Regions from separate parts of the Homo sapiens genome. Here region 2 is linked to region 1. Evidence: fine-mapped expression QTL. Tissue or cell type: monocytes after R848. Region 1 holds a variant in brackets; the other region holds the start of a gene. All regions are shown on one strand. Distances are from middle to middle.

The links. PIP is the estimated chance that this variant, and not a neighbour inherited with it, causes the effect.
Region 2: ERN1 starts here. The variant in region 1 is fine-mapped to the expression of ERN1 in monocytes after R848 (Quach 2016, PIP 0.95).

What each region holds. Positions count from the first base shown.
Region 1 is chr17:64,283,212-64,291,313 of GRCh38, reverse strand. No RefSeq gene overlaps it. Among named protein-coding and RNA genes, the nearest start is that of TEX2, 24 kb to the right of the region's middle. RefSeq lists a silencer at 1,331-1,625. The variant C/T (reference allele first, on the strand shown) is at 3,973.
Region 2 is chr17:64,125,526-64,133,614 of GRCh38, reverse strand. It overlaps ERN1 (endoplasmic reticulum to nucleus signaling 1), which reads left to right and starts at 3,471. Exons shown (of 22, transcript NM_001433.5): 1 at 3,471-3,639. The coding sequence starts at 3,586. RefSeq lists enhancers at 1-11, 1,607-1,666, 2,571-2,620, 2,671-2,870 and silencers at 3,291-3,420, 3,511-3,960.

The DNA of each region.
Region 1 (8,102 bases):
ATTTTAGAATTATCCTCACTGACAGCTTCCCATCAAGTTTCAGCAGTCCCCGTGGGCAGATTCTCAGTGAGTCCCACAGGCCCCATGGTGGTTCACTTTCCAGCTTTAGTCCATCTGTACCCTGATGGGGAGATTTCTTGCTTGCCAATCTTAGCCATAGTTCTGTGCCCACCAACCTCTACCTGCTTGCACCCCAGACGGGAGTTTCTGTTTGTCCAGCAACTGTGGACCAGCTGTGGCCTGGGACAACCCAGTGAACTTCATTATCCAGTGGGCCGTAATTTCACTTTGCCCCACAAAGTCTGAATTCCAGCTGTGGGTCTTCTCCCTTAGCCATAGGATATTCTTTGTTTGTTTGTTTGTTTGTTTGTTTGTTTTTGAGATGGAGTCTTGCTCTGTTGCCCAGCTTGGAGTGCAGTGGCGCAGTCTTGGCTCACTGCAACCTCCGCCTCCCGAGTTCAAGTGATTCTCCTGCCTCAGCCTCCCAAGTAGCTAGGATTATAGGCATGCACCACCACGCTTGGCTAATTTTTGTATTTTTAGTAGAGACGGGGTTTCCCCATGTTGGCCAAGCTGATATTGAACACTTGGCCTCAAGTGATCCTCCCACCTAGACCTCCCAAAGTGCTGGGATTATAGGCGTGAGCCACCACACCCAGTCTATTTCTCTTCTCTCAAGGATTGTTGTCCTTGAGATCCATTGCGTGACATCCAATGTCTTGAAAACCATTGTTTTATATTTTGTCCAGCTTTTTTTTTTGTTTTTCCTTTTTTGGTTCACTGAAATCTTTTGTCCAGTTTTTTACTTGTTTCAGACTGGTCCCTGTTATTCCATCTTCACCAGAGGTGGAAGTCAACTCTAATTTTAAAATATTCATTTACTCAACATGTACACACAAAAAATTGTGGCACACCAGCCATGGGGATGCAGCAATGAACAAAACAAACAAAAATCTCTGCCCTCCTGGAGCTCGTATTCTTATGACAACTGATTAAGAAAATGTCTAATGCTGTGTGTGCTCACCACACATGTCCTGGCCTGGACCACCAGGCTGGGAATCCACAACAATACCCACTTCCCCCTCGTTGCTACTGATCTGTCCTCTTTCCTTCCTTCCTTCCCCCTCTCCACCATGCCCACCACTCTGGAGGTGCCCCCTCCTTCTCTTTTCCAAGGTAATTCATGGAATTATTCAAACTGCCTTGTCTGTGCAATGCCTCTGGAAAGCTACATGATAAATGTCTTCCAAGCCTGGAAAGTGTGATTTATATTTTTAATTATATCTTTCTGGCACCACAGGAGGAGTTTTCGTCTTCCCCATCTCCACAGCATCACACTTGGCTGTTTAGTGAATAGATTGAGATCAAACTTTGCTCCTTGCAAGGTCACAGATAAGCAGCCCTCATCAGCACCTTGCATCTGACAGCTACAAGCCAAGGTCTTATTTATAGGCCCTGTTACATACTCGCCCCACATCCCCAGCTCATCTTTTATTGTTCTATTTTAAATTGGGAAGACAGCCAACCCCACGTCCATCTCGTTCTGCCTTATCACCCTGCAGCACAGGCTGGATAATGGCCATATATATATATATATTTTAATAACAGCTTGATTGAGATATAATTCACATACCATAAAATTCATGCTTTTAAAGTGACGATTCAGAGGTTTTTGGTATATTCAGAGTCCTGCAACCAACACTACAATCAATTTTAGAACATTTTTGTCATCCCCCCCAAAAAACTCCTACTGGCTGGGTGCAGTAGCTCACACCTATAATCCTAGCACTTTGGGGGCAGAGGTGGGAGGATCACTTGAGCCCAGGAGTTCAAGACCAGCCGGGGCAACATGGCAAGAACCCATCTCTACTAAAATAAAAAATACAAAAATTAGCCAGGCGTAGCAGCTTGCACCTGCAGTCCCAGCTATTCGAGAGGCTAATGTGTGAGGATTGCTTGAGCCCAGGAGGTCAAGGCTACAGCGAGCCATGATCACGCCACTGCACTCCAGCCTGGGTGACAGAGCGAGACTCTGTCTTCCTCTAACTCTCATAGTCCTAGGAAACTACATATCAGTCTTCTGCCTCTGTGGATTTGCCTACACTGGACCTTCCATATAAATGTGATCATAATATGTGACCCTTCGTGACTGGCTTCTTCCACTTAGCGTAATGTTTTTGAGGTTCATCCCTGTTGTGGCATCCATCAGAACTTTGTTCCCTTTTATTGCCAGATAATATTTCGTTGTATGGATACACCACATTTTATCCATTCATCAGTTGGTGGACATTTGGGTTGTTTGACCTTTTTTGCTATCATGAATACTGCTGCTAAAAACATTCATGAATTAGCCAGTCGTGGTGGCGCACGCCTGTAGTCCCAGCTATTCGGGAGGCTGAGGCAGAAGAATCACTTGAACCCGGGAGGCAGAGGTTGCAGCGAGCCAAGATCGCGCCACTGCACTCCAGCCTGGGCAATAGAGCAAGACTCCATCTCAAAACAAACAAACAAACAAACAAAAAAATTCATGTACACATTTCTGTGTGGTGGGCATAAATATTCAGCCTCAATTTCCAACAGCACTTTGGCTGAGGGTGGGCTTGGGACACAGAAAAGGAAGGCGGCCACAAAACCCAGCCTGTCTTCTGACTATGACACTGATAGAACCCTCAAGGAAAAGGAAGACAGGAGAGCCGGCTTCCTCCTAGAAAATTCAGCCTAGACCAGGCACGCTGGCTCATGCCTGTAATCCCAACACTTTGGGAGGCTGAGGCGGGCAGATCACTTGAGGTCAGGAGTTCAAGACCAGCCTGGCCAACATGGCAAAACCTTGTCTCTACTAAAAAAAGAACATATAAAAATTAGCCAGGCGTGGTGGTGGATGCCTGTATTCCCAGCTACACAGGAGGCTGAGGCACAAGAATTACTTGAACCCTGGAGGTGGAAGTTGCAGGGAGCCAAGATTGCACCACTGCACTCCAGCCTGGGTGACAGAGCAAGACTCCGTTTCAAAAAAAATAGAAAAGAAAATTCAGCCTAATAAACAAGAGTTGAGGACTTGCTGTGTGCCTGGTTCTGAGACGGGAGCTGGGGGCTGCAGCCTCCCTCCCTCCTCCCTCTTCCTCCTTCCTTCTTTCCAGCATTCCTGTATTAGCATCTACTCTCTGTCAGACTCTCTGGGGGTACCCCCAAGGGTCTTAACCTAATTTTAAAAGGCAGGCAGTTGAATTCAGAATTCTAAGTGTCCCGGTGACTGATGTCGGGCCAGGACAGGAACTACGGTCACCCATGAGAGGGACACCCAACCCAGTTCTAGGGAATCAGGGAAGGCCTCTCGGAGGTTCTTCCTACATTATATTATATAAATTTCCAAACATACAGAAAGCCTTACATGCTCACCACCCAGGCTTAACAGTTATTAGCATCTTGCTAGATTTATTTCTAACTTCCTTCTGAAGGATTTTAAGGTAAACTTCAGACATTGCAGAGGTTCACCCCCAAATACCTCAGTGTTCCTTTTTTTTTTTTTTTTTTTGAGACAGAGTCTCACTCTGTCACCAGGCTGGAGTGCAGTGGCGCAATCTTGGCTCGCTGGAATGCAGTGGCGCAATCTTGGCTCACTGCAACCTCCGCCTCCCGAGTTCAAGGGATTCTCTGGCCTCAGCCTCCCAAGAAGCTAGGATTACAGGAGTGCACCACCACGCCCGATTAATTTTTACATTTTTAGTAGAGACAGGGTTTCACCATGTTGGCCAGGATGGTCTCAATCCCCTGATTTTTTGATCCGCCCGCCTTGGCCTCCCAAAGTGCTGGGATTATAGGCATGAGCCACCACGCCCGGCCTCCTTTTAAAAACAAAGATAGCTGGGCACGGTGGCTCACGCCTGTAATCCCAGCGCTTTGGGAGGCCGAGGCGGGTGGATCGCCTGAGGTCAGGAGTTTGAGGCAAGCCTGGCCAACATGGTGAAACCC[C/T]GTCTCCACTAAAAATACAAAAATTAGCCAGACGTGGTGGCACATGCCTATAATCCCAGCTACTTGGGAGGCTGAGGCAGGAGAATCGCTTGAACCCAGGAGGCGGAGGTTGCAGTGAGCCAAGATCATGCCATTGCACTCCAGCCTGGGGGATAAGAGCGAGACTTCGTCTCAAAAAAAAAGAACACACAAAGATAATTTCCTACATAGGGATACCTTTATCACACCAAACGTAGGTCATCATATTTCTTTGATAATCCAATGCCCAGTTCATATTCAAATTTCCCCAGTTATTTCAAGGACATTACGTATAGTTCTTTTGTTTGAAAAAGGATCTAATTACAGTGGAGGTGCCCTTTAATCTGCAACAAGAAGGCAGGGTGAGAAGGCTTTGTGGGCAAAGCAGCTCCTGGGCAAAGGCTCAGGGGGACAGTCTGGGCCTGGGGAAATTGACGAACTCAGCTTGAGGAAGATGGGCCCAGTTCGGAGGCCCTACTGGCCCTGCTGTGTTCCCACTGGAGGAGAGAGAGCGAGCCCTCCTAGGCACAGCTGTGACATGCCCAGAGAGTGGGGCTCTGATGAAAGGGCCTGCTGGTTCTTGCTATGATCCCCAGGGCCTGATTCAGGACACACCTCGGGCTGGAGGGCCTTCTTCGAACCTTCCTTCAGTCAAGGGAGCGGTCAGTCCAACAATCCACGGCTCTGGAAAGTTCCCCCTGAAGATTGGTTCTGTCCTGCTCACCCTGTGCTCCCTATGGGGACAGGCCCTGCCTTGGACTCCCAGGACAGTGTCTTTCTACTGTCTCTCAAGACAGGCAGGGCACTTGTATTAATCCACTTTCACACTGCTGAGAAACACATACCCCAGGCCGGTCACAGTGGCTCACGCCTGTTATGCCAGCATCTTGGGAGGTTGAGGCAGGCAGATCACCTGAGGTCAGGAGTTTGAGACCAGCCTGGCCAACATGGCGAAACCCTGTCTCTACTAAAAATGCAAAAATTAGCCAGGCGTGGTGGCAAGCGCCTGTAATCCCAGCTACTTGGGACGCCAAGGCAGGAGAATCGCTTGAACCAGGGAGGCAGGGGCGGCAGTGAGGCAAAATAGCACCACTGCACTCCAGCCCGGGCAACAGAGTGAGACTCTGTCTCAAAATAAATAAATAAAAATAAAAGACATACCTGACACACCCAAGACTAGGCGATTTACAAAAGAAAGAGATTTAATGGACTCACAGTTCCACGTGGCTGGGGAGGCCTCACAATCATGGCAGAAAGTGAAAGGCACGTCTCACGTGGCAGCAGACAAGGGAAGAGAGTTTGTGCAGGGAGACTGCCCTTTATAAAACCATCAGATCTCATGAGACTTATTCACTATCACATGAATAGCATGGGAAAGACCTGCCCCCATGATTCAATTACCTCCCACTGGGTCACTCCCAACACATGGGAATTGTGGGAGCTACAATTCAAGATGAGATTTGAGTGGGGACACAGCCAAACCATATCAGGACCCTTCCTCCAGCCCTGTTAGGACATGTGGCAGATCCTGACTATAACAGCCCAAGACAGTGCTGTCTCTCCCTCAGGGCCCCATCATCCAGCCCTCTCAACTCCAGGATGGGCTGCCATGGTCCTCTGGGTGCCTTTGCCTGGTTCTAGTCACTGTGTTGAATGTCAGAGAAGGAAATAGCTGCAGTCTCTGTTTAGAGCCCTGTCCTTTGAGAACAGCAGGTACTCTTGATGTGGGCTGTAGATGACCTTTTGAAAATCAGACCCTGCTTCCCAGGAGCCTTTCATCATGTTTCTGAGATGTTGCTCTTCTCTCTTTGATGGAACTTCAGACAGAAGCCAATCTGCAGCCTAAGCCTGCCCGGGCCTTGAGTCCACTTAACAACCTAGGAGCCCTGTTGGATGTGCCAGAGGAGTATTGATAATCAGGGAGCAGAGATAGAGGAGTTAGGCAGGGGCAGCTTGGCCCTCTACGACCTCCTGGCACAGCACCATGAAGCCTAGGTGTCTGGCCCCTGACAATTTGCTCCATGCAGCAAGGGGCAGGGTTGGGAGGGGTCTTTCTTATTCATCAGCCAGTCAATAAAGCATCTTTCCAGGTGGGGCTTTAGTTCAGGCCTTACCTTTCCAGGAACTTCTGTTTGTTTGTTTTGAGATGGAGTTTCGCTCTTGTTGCCCAGGCTTGAGTGCAATGGCACAATCTCGGCTCACTGCAACCTCCGCCTCACGAGTCCAAGCGATTCTCCTGCTTCAGCCTCCCAAGTAGCTGGAACTATAAACACGCACCACCACGCCTGGCTAACTTTTTGTATTTTTAGTAGAGACGGGGTTTCACGATGTTGGCCAGGGTGGTTGAACTCCTGATCGCAGGTGATTCTCCCGCCTCGGCCTCCCAAAGTGCTGGGATTACTGGCATGAGCCACTGCCCTCAGCCTCTGGAAACTTCTTTATCAGCTTACTTCATTAATCAAGCTGTCGGGAGTTGGGTGAATAATTCAGGAGGCCAATTTCATTCAGTCATTCATTTATTCACTCATTCAACATACATTTTTGAGCACACGCTGTTTTCCAGGCACAATTCTAGGGGCTGGGCATATAGTGGTGAAAAAGACAAAGTTCCCACCCTCACAGGGCTGTAGTCTGGCAAATTCGCCTGCATTTAATTGGTTTCAGCAAGAAACAGAATGGCCAGACCACTGAAGGCTCAAGTCAGCTGACCCACCACAGACAGGATCAGCAGGAATGGTGTGGCCAGTAGACCTAATGACCAACGGATATAATTTTAATATATATCCTGGCCAAATCTCATGTTGAACTGTAAACCCTGGTGTTGGAGGCGAGGCCTGGTGGGAGATGTCTGGGTCATGGGAGCGGATCCCTCATGGCTTGGTGCTGTCCTCGTGATAGTAAATGAGTTCTCAGGAGATCTGGTTGTTTAAGTATGTGGCACCCCTCACAACCACCACTCTCTCTCTTGCTCCTGCTCTGGCCACGTGACATGTCTGCTCCCGCTTCATCTTCAGCCAGGAATAAAAGCACCCTGAGGCCTCCCCAGAAGCCAAGCAGGTGCTGGCACCATGGTTGCACAGCCTGCAAAACCATGACCCAATTAAACCTCTTTTGTAAATTACTCAGTCTCAGGTATTTCTTTATAGCAATGCAAGAATGGCCTAATACACCAGCTTTGGTCTCTGGACTACTAGAAGCATCTGAGTACCACAGCGGTGCCCACTTTGGAAAACCCTATTCTATGTCATCACGTACTGGTCATACAAATTGAGACACTGCCCTAGTCATTACAACCAGCCTTGGCTGTCCCTAAATCCCCCTCAGGCACCCACTACTCATCCTTCCCTAGAGAGATCACTTCTATAAATGACACACATCATCCATGACATGGGGATTCCACCTGAATTTACTTAGGGGAATGGTTCAAACCGTATATTTTAACTACACCCGGAGATTCTTCTTCAAGATTCCTTTAAGCGTTTGTCTTAGTCTGTTCCTGCTGCTATAACAAAATACCTTAGTCTGGGTGATTTATAAATAGTAGAAATTTATTTCTCACAGTTCTGGAGGCTGGAAAGTCCAAGATCAAGGGATTGGCAGATCCAGTATCTGGTGAGGGCTCCATCTCTGCTTTCAAGATGGTGCCTTGTTGCTGCGTCCTCCAGAAGAGACAAATGCTGTCTCCTCACATGGTGGAAAGGGAGAAAGGGATGAAAAGGACAAATAGGCTCCCTTCAGCCCTTTTATAAGAACCCTAATCCCATTCATGAGGGCAAGGCCCTCTGACCTAGTCATCTCCTAAAAGCCCCACCTCATGCATTGGGAACGAAATTTCAACACACATTTCGAAGAGACACACACATTCAAACCACAGTAGGGTTGTTCCTTTTAAACATTATTTAAAGGCACCCATATGTATGTAATAATAATAAGGGGGGCTGGGCACGGTGGCTCACGCCTGTAATCCCGGCACTTTGGGATGCCGAGGCGAACAGATCACTTGAGGTCAGGAGTTCGAGACCAGCCTGGCTAACATGGTGAAACCCCATCTCTACTAAAAATACAAAAACCAGCTGGGTGTGGTGGCACGTGTGCCTGTAGTCCCAGCTACC
Region 2 (8,089 bases), 160 kb after region 1:
TTTTAATTTCTTTTTTTTTGTTTGTTTTTTGAGATGGAGTCTCACTCTGTCGCCCAGACTGGAGTGCAGTGGCGCAGTCTTGGCTCACTGCAACCTCTGCCTCCCGGGTTCAAGAGATTTTTCTCCCTCAGCCTCCCAAGTAGCTGGGACTACAGGCGCACACCACCACGCCCGGCTAATTTTTGTTTTTTTAGTAGAGACAGGGTTTCACCATGTTGCTCAGGCTGGTTGGTCTTGAACTCCTGACCTCGTGATCCACCTGCCTCGTCCTCCCAAAGTGCTGGGATTACAGGTGTGAGCCACCATGCCCAGCTTTTTATTTCTATTTTTTTGAGACAGGGTCTTGCTCTGTCGTCCAGGCTGGAGTGCCATGGCACGATCAAAGCTCACTGCAGCCTTGACCTCCTGGGCTCAAGCCATCCTCCCACCTCAGCTTCCCAAGTCACTGGAACTACAGGTGTGAACCACTATGCCTGACTAATTTTTTGGTTTTTTGTTTTTTTTTTTTTACAGAAACAGGGTCTCACCATGTTCCCTAGGCTGGTCTTGATCTCAAGCAATCCTCCTGCTTCGGCCTCCCAAAGTGCTGGGATTACAGGCGTGAGCCACCATGCCTGGCCTGGAAATCTGTTTTTTGTTGTTGTTGTTTTGTTTTGTTTTTTTAGCTCTCCAAGTTTGGGAACCAGTGGTTTAAAGGGAAGTGAAAATAAGATTTTCTCCCACCTCCCCATAGTCAGATCCTGCTGTACTTCTTTGTTGAATCTGATGTATATATGTTTCTTACACTGGTGGAAAAGAGGCCTTATCTTTACACTAAGACCATGACCTTTGCTTTATTCAGTGGATGTTATTTAATGTGACTTGCAGAAAGGTCATTTACTGCCCATTTGCAGGTCTTTTATATGGTCAGGTCCACTTCAAAGGCACCCTACAAAATATTCCATTTCTGTTTGTGTTTATCAGTGCTATCAGCTTTTACTTTATCATAAGCAAAAAGCTGCCTAAAGAAGTACTTGACTGTAGAGCAAGATTATGGGCAATGCCACCATAAATAAAACCAGTGCTTATCTGTCTGGATTGCCAATCAAGTGAAGAAGTGCATGAAGCATGTGGACGATGCATAAGAAATTCAGAGAATGGGGCCGGGCACAGTGGCTCACGCCTGTAATCCCAGCACTTTAGGAGGCGGAGGTGGGCAGATCACGAGGTCAGGAGTTCGAGACCAGCCTGGCCAACATGGTGAAACCCCGTCTCTATAAAAATACAAAAATTAGCCAGGCGTGGTGGCAGGCACCTGTAATCCCAGCTACTCGGGAGTCTCAGGCAGGAGAATCGCTTGAAACCGAAAAGGCAGAGGTTGCAGTGAGCCACGATCGTGCCACTGCACTCTAGCCTGGGCAAAAGAGTGAAACTCTGTCTCAAAAAAAAAAAAAAAAGAAAGAAATTCAGAGAACATGTAACAGTGCAATTAAGCCCTGGGGATTTGGTCCAACTGAGTGTAAGATAAATAATACCTAACTGTCCAGGCTTCTTGGAACAGATTTTTTTTCTTTCTACGATCTTTAAAACTGATTTATGAGTGAAATTGAGGTCAGCATTCCCCTTTGTGTTTCATCTGCTGATGTTACAGGGTCACAGTGACATTTTGAATTGTAAAAGGGCTGCCAGAGTTCCAGTACAGCAAATTTTCCCCTCCTAGACTTACTCTGTTTGAGAAAAAGCACCAGAGGGGGGGATGTGAAAGTGACATTTTTCAGTCAAGCTTCTCTTTTAAGTCAAGTATACAGGGTCTAACAGATGCTGTTGTCAGCTGGCAAACTGGACAGGTAATCACTAAAGAGGTCCTCCCAAGCCAGGTGTCGTGGGGCACACCTGAAGTCCCAGCTACTGGGGAGGATCTCTTGAGCCCAGGAGTTTGAGAGCAGCCTGGGCAACACCGTGAGACCTCATCTCTAAAAAGAAAAGATAAAAGGTCAAGAAATAAAGAGCTCCTCCCAGTTTCAGGGCTGTAGGCCTCCCTGGAAGCCCGGCTATACTGCTCAGGAGTGCTGGGCCTCTCAGTACATCTCTCTGCCAATCCCAAACCTCTGTTTGCATTTAGACATTCAGGTAACACTTTTCAAAATGTCTCTACTGTTTTCACAGTTGCCAAGATTCTTCCCACTCTTACAGAGATGTGTTGGAGTCTCCAGCATGCGGTAGGACTTAGTCCCTTCACTGTAATCCAGGCCTAGGGGGTTAGGAATGGGGAGCTCTATTTGCAGGATTTGGGCTTACTGTCATTTTGGTCTGTTTTAGTTGGATAAGATTGACCACAATGCACACAGACTGGACATTTGGCCAGTCCCCCACTACTACTTTGTTGTTTTGTCTAGGAGTGCTTATTCTTTTCCTTCAAACCTGAAAAATCTTAGGCTCTCATATAAGCAAGTCAGGAAAAATTAGAGAATTTCATAGCCGTTTTCTTTTTCTCCTAGGATAAGTTAGATACCTTTCCCTGGGCTCCAAATCTCAGTTTACTGTCTTTCCTTGCAAAAGACGTGTCCTCCCTACCCATGTCCCTCTCAGTGGAGGCCAGTGCCAGTGACCAAACAGCTGCCGAGCTCTTTAACTCTAATTAGTACTCCACACCCTCACATAGACCTTGCAGGAGGCCTCAACCCACCCACTCCCTCCAACGAGTTGTGACGCAGACCATCTCAAACTTCACATCCACACGTGTCACATCAACGCACGTGACACAAGTGGCCGAAATGGTTTCCTCCTTATAATTTTTGGTGAGTGACTTGGCCGTGGTTCATTCCAAGCGGAAGTGATGGCTGGTGGATATGACTTGAGGGGAATTCCTGAGGGCAAGGAAAAGGAAGAAAGGGGCCCCAGAGAAGACGAGGCACAGCTGGAGAACCCTAGGGCTGTGAACACTGCGACTGCCGCGCGGGGCAGCTGCGCCGTGTTTGCTGGAAGCCTCCGGTAGCTGCTGAAACCTTCGCTCCGGAGGTCGCCTCGGTAAACCTTGCGGATGATTCCACCACGGCGGAAAGACGAAAAGGAGGCTTCTAGGCACCCGGGACCGCCCGTGTCCCGCCCTTTTCCCCGATGAAGTCTGACGCGGCAGGTCCCTCGGCAGGGTTAATGGGACGGCCTGGTGGGGCATTGCCGGTCTTTCCCAGCCACAGACAAGCTTCGCGCCTCGATCCCCCAGCGCCCCCAGACGCTGGATGCCGAGGCCTGGTCCTTTACAGCCGCCGACGCCTCATGAGCGAAGCCAGCCAGATGCCAGCACCGCCTTCGGCCCCGCCCCGAGCCAGCCCCTCCCACATCCCCGCCCGGGGCACGCCCTCGGCCCGCCCCCATCTCCGCCCCGAACACGCCCCTAGATTGGCCCCGCCCCGTCCCCGCCCGCAACTCCGCCCCGACCGGAAGAAGCCGCGGCACCCAGCGCTTATAGGGCCGGGAATGGGGGTGCCGCCGCTGCCTAGTCAGTTCTGCGTCCGCTGAGGCTCGGTCACCGCCTCGCTGTCGTCGCGGCGCCCCCGCCCCGTCCTCTGTCCGTACCGCCCCCGGAGCCAGGGCCGAGTCCTCGCCATGCCGGCCCGGCGGCTGCTGCTGCTGCTGACGCTGCTGCTGCCCGGCCTCGGGGTGAGTGACCGGGGAGCGTGGGGTGGAGGACAGCTCGCGACGGCCGGGTCGGGGCCGGGGCAGCGTCGCGGCGCCGGGGCTGGAGTCCGAGCTGGGAGCGCGACGGCGGCGGCCAGATGCCCCGTGAGCCCAGCCGTGGGAGGCTCGGGCCGGGCGTAGGAGGCGGCACCGGGCCGGGAGAGCTTCCCTGACGGGAGTCGCGGCCCCACCGAGGCGTCGGCCGCCCGAAGAGCCTCCCAAGCCAGCGCGGCTGTCACGGGCAGCGGCTCCCCGGACCCCGCGGGCTCGGGCGCAACTTCGTGGCGTCCTGCACGGCACTTGGGGGTCCCAGAAGGCCCCGGCCTGAGGAGGCCGCCCACCTGCGGGACCCTCCTCCTCGCGGGCGGGCGCCGGCGCTGCCTGGCGGGGGCCGCGGAGGAGCCGAAAGGGCGTTGGGATCCAGGGGAAGGGTCTGTCCTGCGCTTCGAATCCTTGTTTGAACTTTTTAAAAATTCGAAAACTTTGGGGAACGAATGCAACAGGGAGTAAGGACTCTCACCCGAGAGCTGGCTTCTGCCACTTGCCCTGCCGGTTTCTTGGTACTGGGAGGCTGCAGGCTTCCTTCTGTGCACCGAGACTTCCTTGAGCAAGTGGAGCTGTGGGAATTGCACTCTTGGAAGATCCCGCATGGGTTCGAGGTGAGGCCGCTTCAGAACCTCAAATGAAAGACTGTCTCCTCGTGGGAGAGCACCTGGGGCCATCAGAAATGTCTTTTCATCTTTTTCTGGAGGAGACGAATGATAGGGCCTGGTTTACATTCATTTAACTCTTTATGACCTTCACTCAGCTGTGGATTTGGGGGCACTTTGTGGGAGACTTGGCTTTTTTTTTTCTTCTGGTTGGAAGAACCTAAATTAGCGAATGTTTTTCACAAAATGTATTGTTCAGGATGTGAGCGTGGCAAATTTGTCCGTGTTCTGTTTAATGACCTCTTTAAAGGTACTGTGTACTCTTTAATAGGGATATCATGTACCAGGTGTCCCAGTAGAGCACTGACATGTGTGTGCCTGAGTGCCAGCCACCGTGTGAACTCTTTGGAGGTTTTGCATTTTAGGTAAATAACTGTCTGTACTCTTGGAGTAACAAGAATTTGGAAACAGGAGAAGTAAATAAATAAGGTTGCCTTTTTCAAATTCAGGGTTTTTTTTTTTAAATAAAGGAAAATTTGTAGACTCTTTATAATAGAACTTGTGGAAGTTAAGTTTTTCTTTCAAATAAAAACCCCACTTTTACAACTAAGGTCAGGTTTTGAACTTGAGCACCTCACCTTGGATTGGTAACTACTGCCTGGCATCTGTTCACAAACGAAGGTATAAGCAGAATGACCAAATGTTTGACATGAATTCGATCATTTCATAACGTCAAGGGATAGGTGTATAATGGTTTCCTTTGCCACATCTTTCCTTTTGCTACTTTGTCACTGGATTCTAGTGTTTGGTTATTGAATAACTTAGGCTAAAGAGCCAAAAATAACGATTTAGCTGTAGTTGGAACTATAGTTTCAGTTCGTGTAAATATTTCCAATTTGTATTTAGAAATCCAAACTTCTCAGAGTTCATGATAAAATATTCCAGACCCTTATCAAAAGGTTATAGTTTAGCGTAACTATATTTAGGTGAAAGGTCAGGCCGGGCCCGGTGGCTCATGCCTGTAATCCCAGCACTTTGGGAGGCTGAGGTGGGTGGATCACTTGAGGTCAGGAGTTTGAGACCAGCCTGGCCAACATGGTGAAACCTTGTCTCTACTAAACATACAAAAAAAAAAAAAAAAAAAAATTAGCCGGGCGTGGTAGCGCAGGCCTGTAATCCCAGCTACTGGGGAGGCTGAGGCAGGAGAATCACCCGAACCTGGGAGGCAGAGGTTGCAGAGATGGAGTCACTGTGCTCCAGCCTGGGTGACAGAGCAAGACTCTGTCTCAAAAAAAAAAAAGAAAGGTCAGAATTTCACTCCTAGAATTTTCTCCCAAGGGTTTTTACCCCCAAACATAGTAAGAATTATTATTTTAAAATTGTAAATGAAACTCATAGCAAAGTTTGCAGTTAAACCAGGCAACAGTGATGTGCAGAACGCAGTGGGTATAAAATCAGACAAACCTGAGTTCTAACTGGTCACTTGCTAGCTGTGCCCTAGGCATATTCTTTTACTACTACTACTACTACTTCTTTTTTTTTTTTTTTTTGATATGGAGTTTCTTCGCTCTTGTTGCCCAGGCTGGAGTGCAATGGTGTGGTCTCAGCTCACTGCAACCTCCGCCTCCCGGGTTCAAGCGATTCTCCTGCCTCAGCCTCCCGAGTAGCTGGGATTACAGGAGCCCACCACTACACCCGGCTAATTTTTGTATTTTTAGTAGAGACGTGGTTTCACCATGTTGGCCAGGTTGGTCTCGAACTCCTGACCTCAAGTGATCCACCCACCTTGGCCTTCCAAAATGCTGGGATTACAGGCATGAGCCACCGCACCCGGCCATGATTTTACTTCTTAGAGACTCCTTCCTGATAGGTGAAATGGGGACAGCTAACATGTGAAAGAAGGCACCACCTTCACACGTGCTTAATAGATAATAAATGTAAATTCTCTTTATGCTCCAAAGATGCTTTTTACTCTAAGCCATCATTTTTTGAATGTTATACTATGCCTCTGCAAGAAATAGTTTTTGATATTTCTTTTTGATTGATGTAGTAACTATTGCATTGGAGGCAATACTGTGATTTTCTTTCAGTGTGTGTCTTATTGAGCCAGACATTGACTCATTATGAGTTGAGACTTTAGGCTACCAGATCCAAAACGCAATAACATTGGTATTATTAAGCACTTGAGGCTGTCTTTTGTTAATCCAGAATGTGCTTATTTAGTCAGTGAGTTTTTCCTTTCTTCCTAGACCTATATCTTGCTCCTAGAGTTGGTTAGGGTTACATCATCACTGTCAGCAGTCCTCATTTTATGGTTATTTAGGTGCCACATCTCTCAATTACCAAAGAGATCAGTACAATGTGAGGCAAAGTACCTTTTTTTTTAAAAGCTATAAGATATCAGATTTCTTTCATTTAGCCAATATTTTGGTTTTAGAGGGAGGTTTTTAAAAAGTCACCGAGAACTGAGGATCATGTGTGTATAGAAACACTGTAATCTGATAGATGAGTCTTAACTAGCAATGTCTTTGCTTATCATTTATTCTGACAGTGATCACCTGCATTAATTATCCTAATAGGCGATATCAAGTGTTTATACTGAGGCCATAAGTAGAATGTTCATTGAGTTTGTTATCAGGGCTGCTGATCATGAAATTAAACTGTAGTTGTGCACATGTGTATTGTTTCATTAACTTGCCTGCCTATTCAGCCTTCTGCAGTAATGTAGCTTCTCAGAGCACAGGAGAAAAATGTATCTGAGAGTTATTCGAGAGAGAGTTCAACAATAGCCCATATTTCCGAACATAAATCTAGTGAGCCGCATTAAAGTTTCTTCATGTCTGGATGGAATAGTGTCACTTGCATAGGTCTGAGGGTTTCATTATTTGCCTGCCCCAGATTTGGACTCCGTTTTTCAGGTGAAAGAATCCTTGGATAACTGTTTCATTTTCATAGGAAACCTCTTTGGTTTCGGGATCCAAAGTAATATGTAGGTTCAATATTTTGTAGGTTTTATAATCAAATGTCTCCCTAAAGAGATGACATAGGGAAGAAAAGCCTAATGTATCATCTTAATGGATTCAGTTTTTATTATGCACAAATAACTGGGCTTGTAACCTAGGAATATGATTAGAGCGTGATGCTGGCTTAAAAAATAGGACTGGTGAATCACAGTTTGTGAATAATAAACTACTGGTTGGAAATATTTCCCAGAAGCAGTTTTTTTTTTCCTTTCTATCTTTACCTATATCCCATGTTTGGTTTCAAACTTCCCTGCCTTAGAGCAACACAGCTGGTTTTAGACAGTCTTTCTATCAATATCTTATAATCTTTGCTCATGTACAAACATACAGCAAATACAACGGTATAAAAATACGATGTTATCTATTTTTGTTCACTTTTTCCCCACAGAACATCTTCTGTAACCCGGTAGAAAATGTTCTGAGTACACCATCACATTTGTCACTTTAGTAGCACCTTAGTAAACCATCATCCATGTAAAAAAACATTGAGCTTCTCAGCCGGGCTTGGTGGTTTGCGCCTGTAATCCCAGCACTTTAGGAGGCCAAGGCGGGTGAATCACTTGAGGTCAGGCGTTCGAGAGCAGCCTGGCCAACATGGCAAAACTCCGTCTGTACTAAAAATACAAAAATTAGCTGGGCAAGGTGGCATGCACCTGTAATCCCAGCTACTCGGGAGGCCGAGGCAGGAGAATCGCTTGAACCTGGGAGGTAGAGGTTGCAGTGAGCTGAGATCACACCACTGCACTGCAGCCTTGGCAA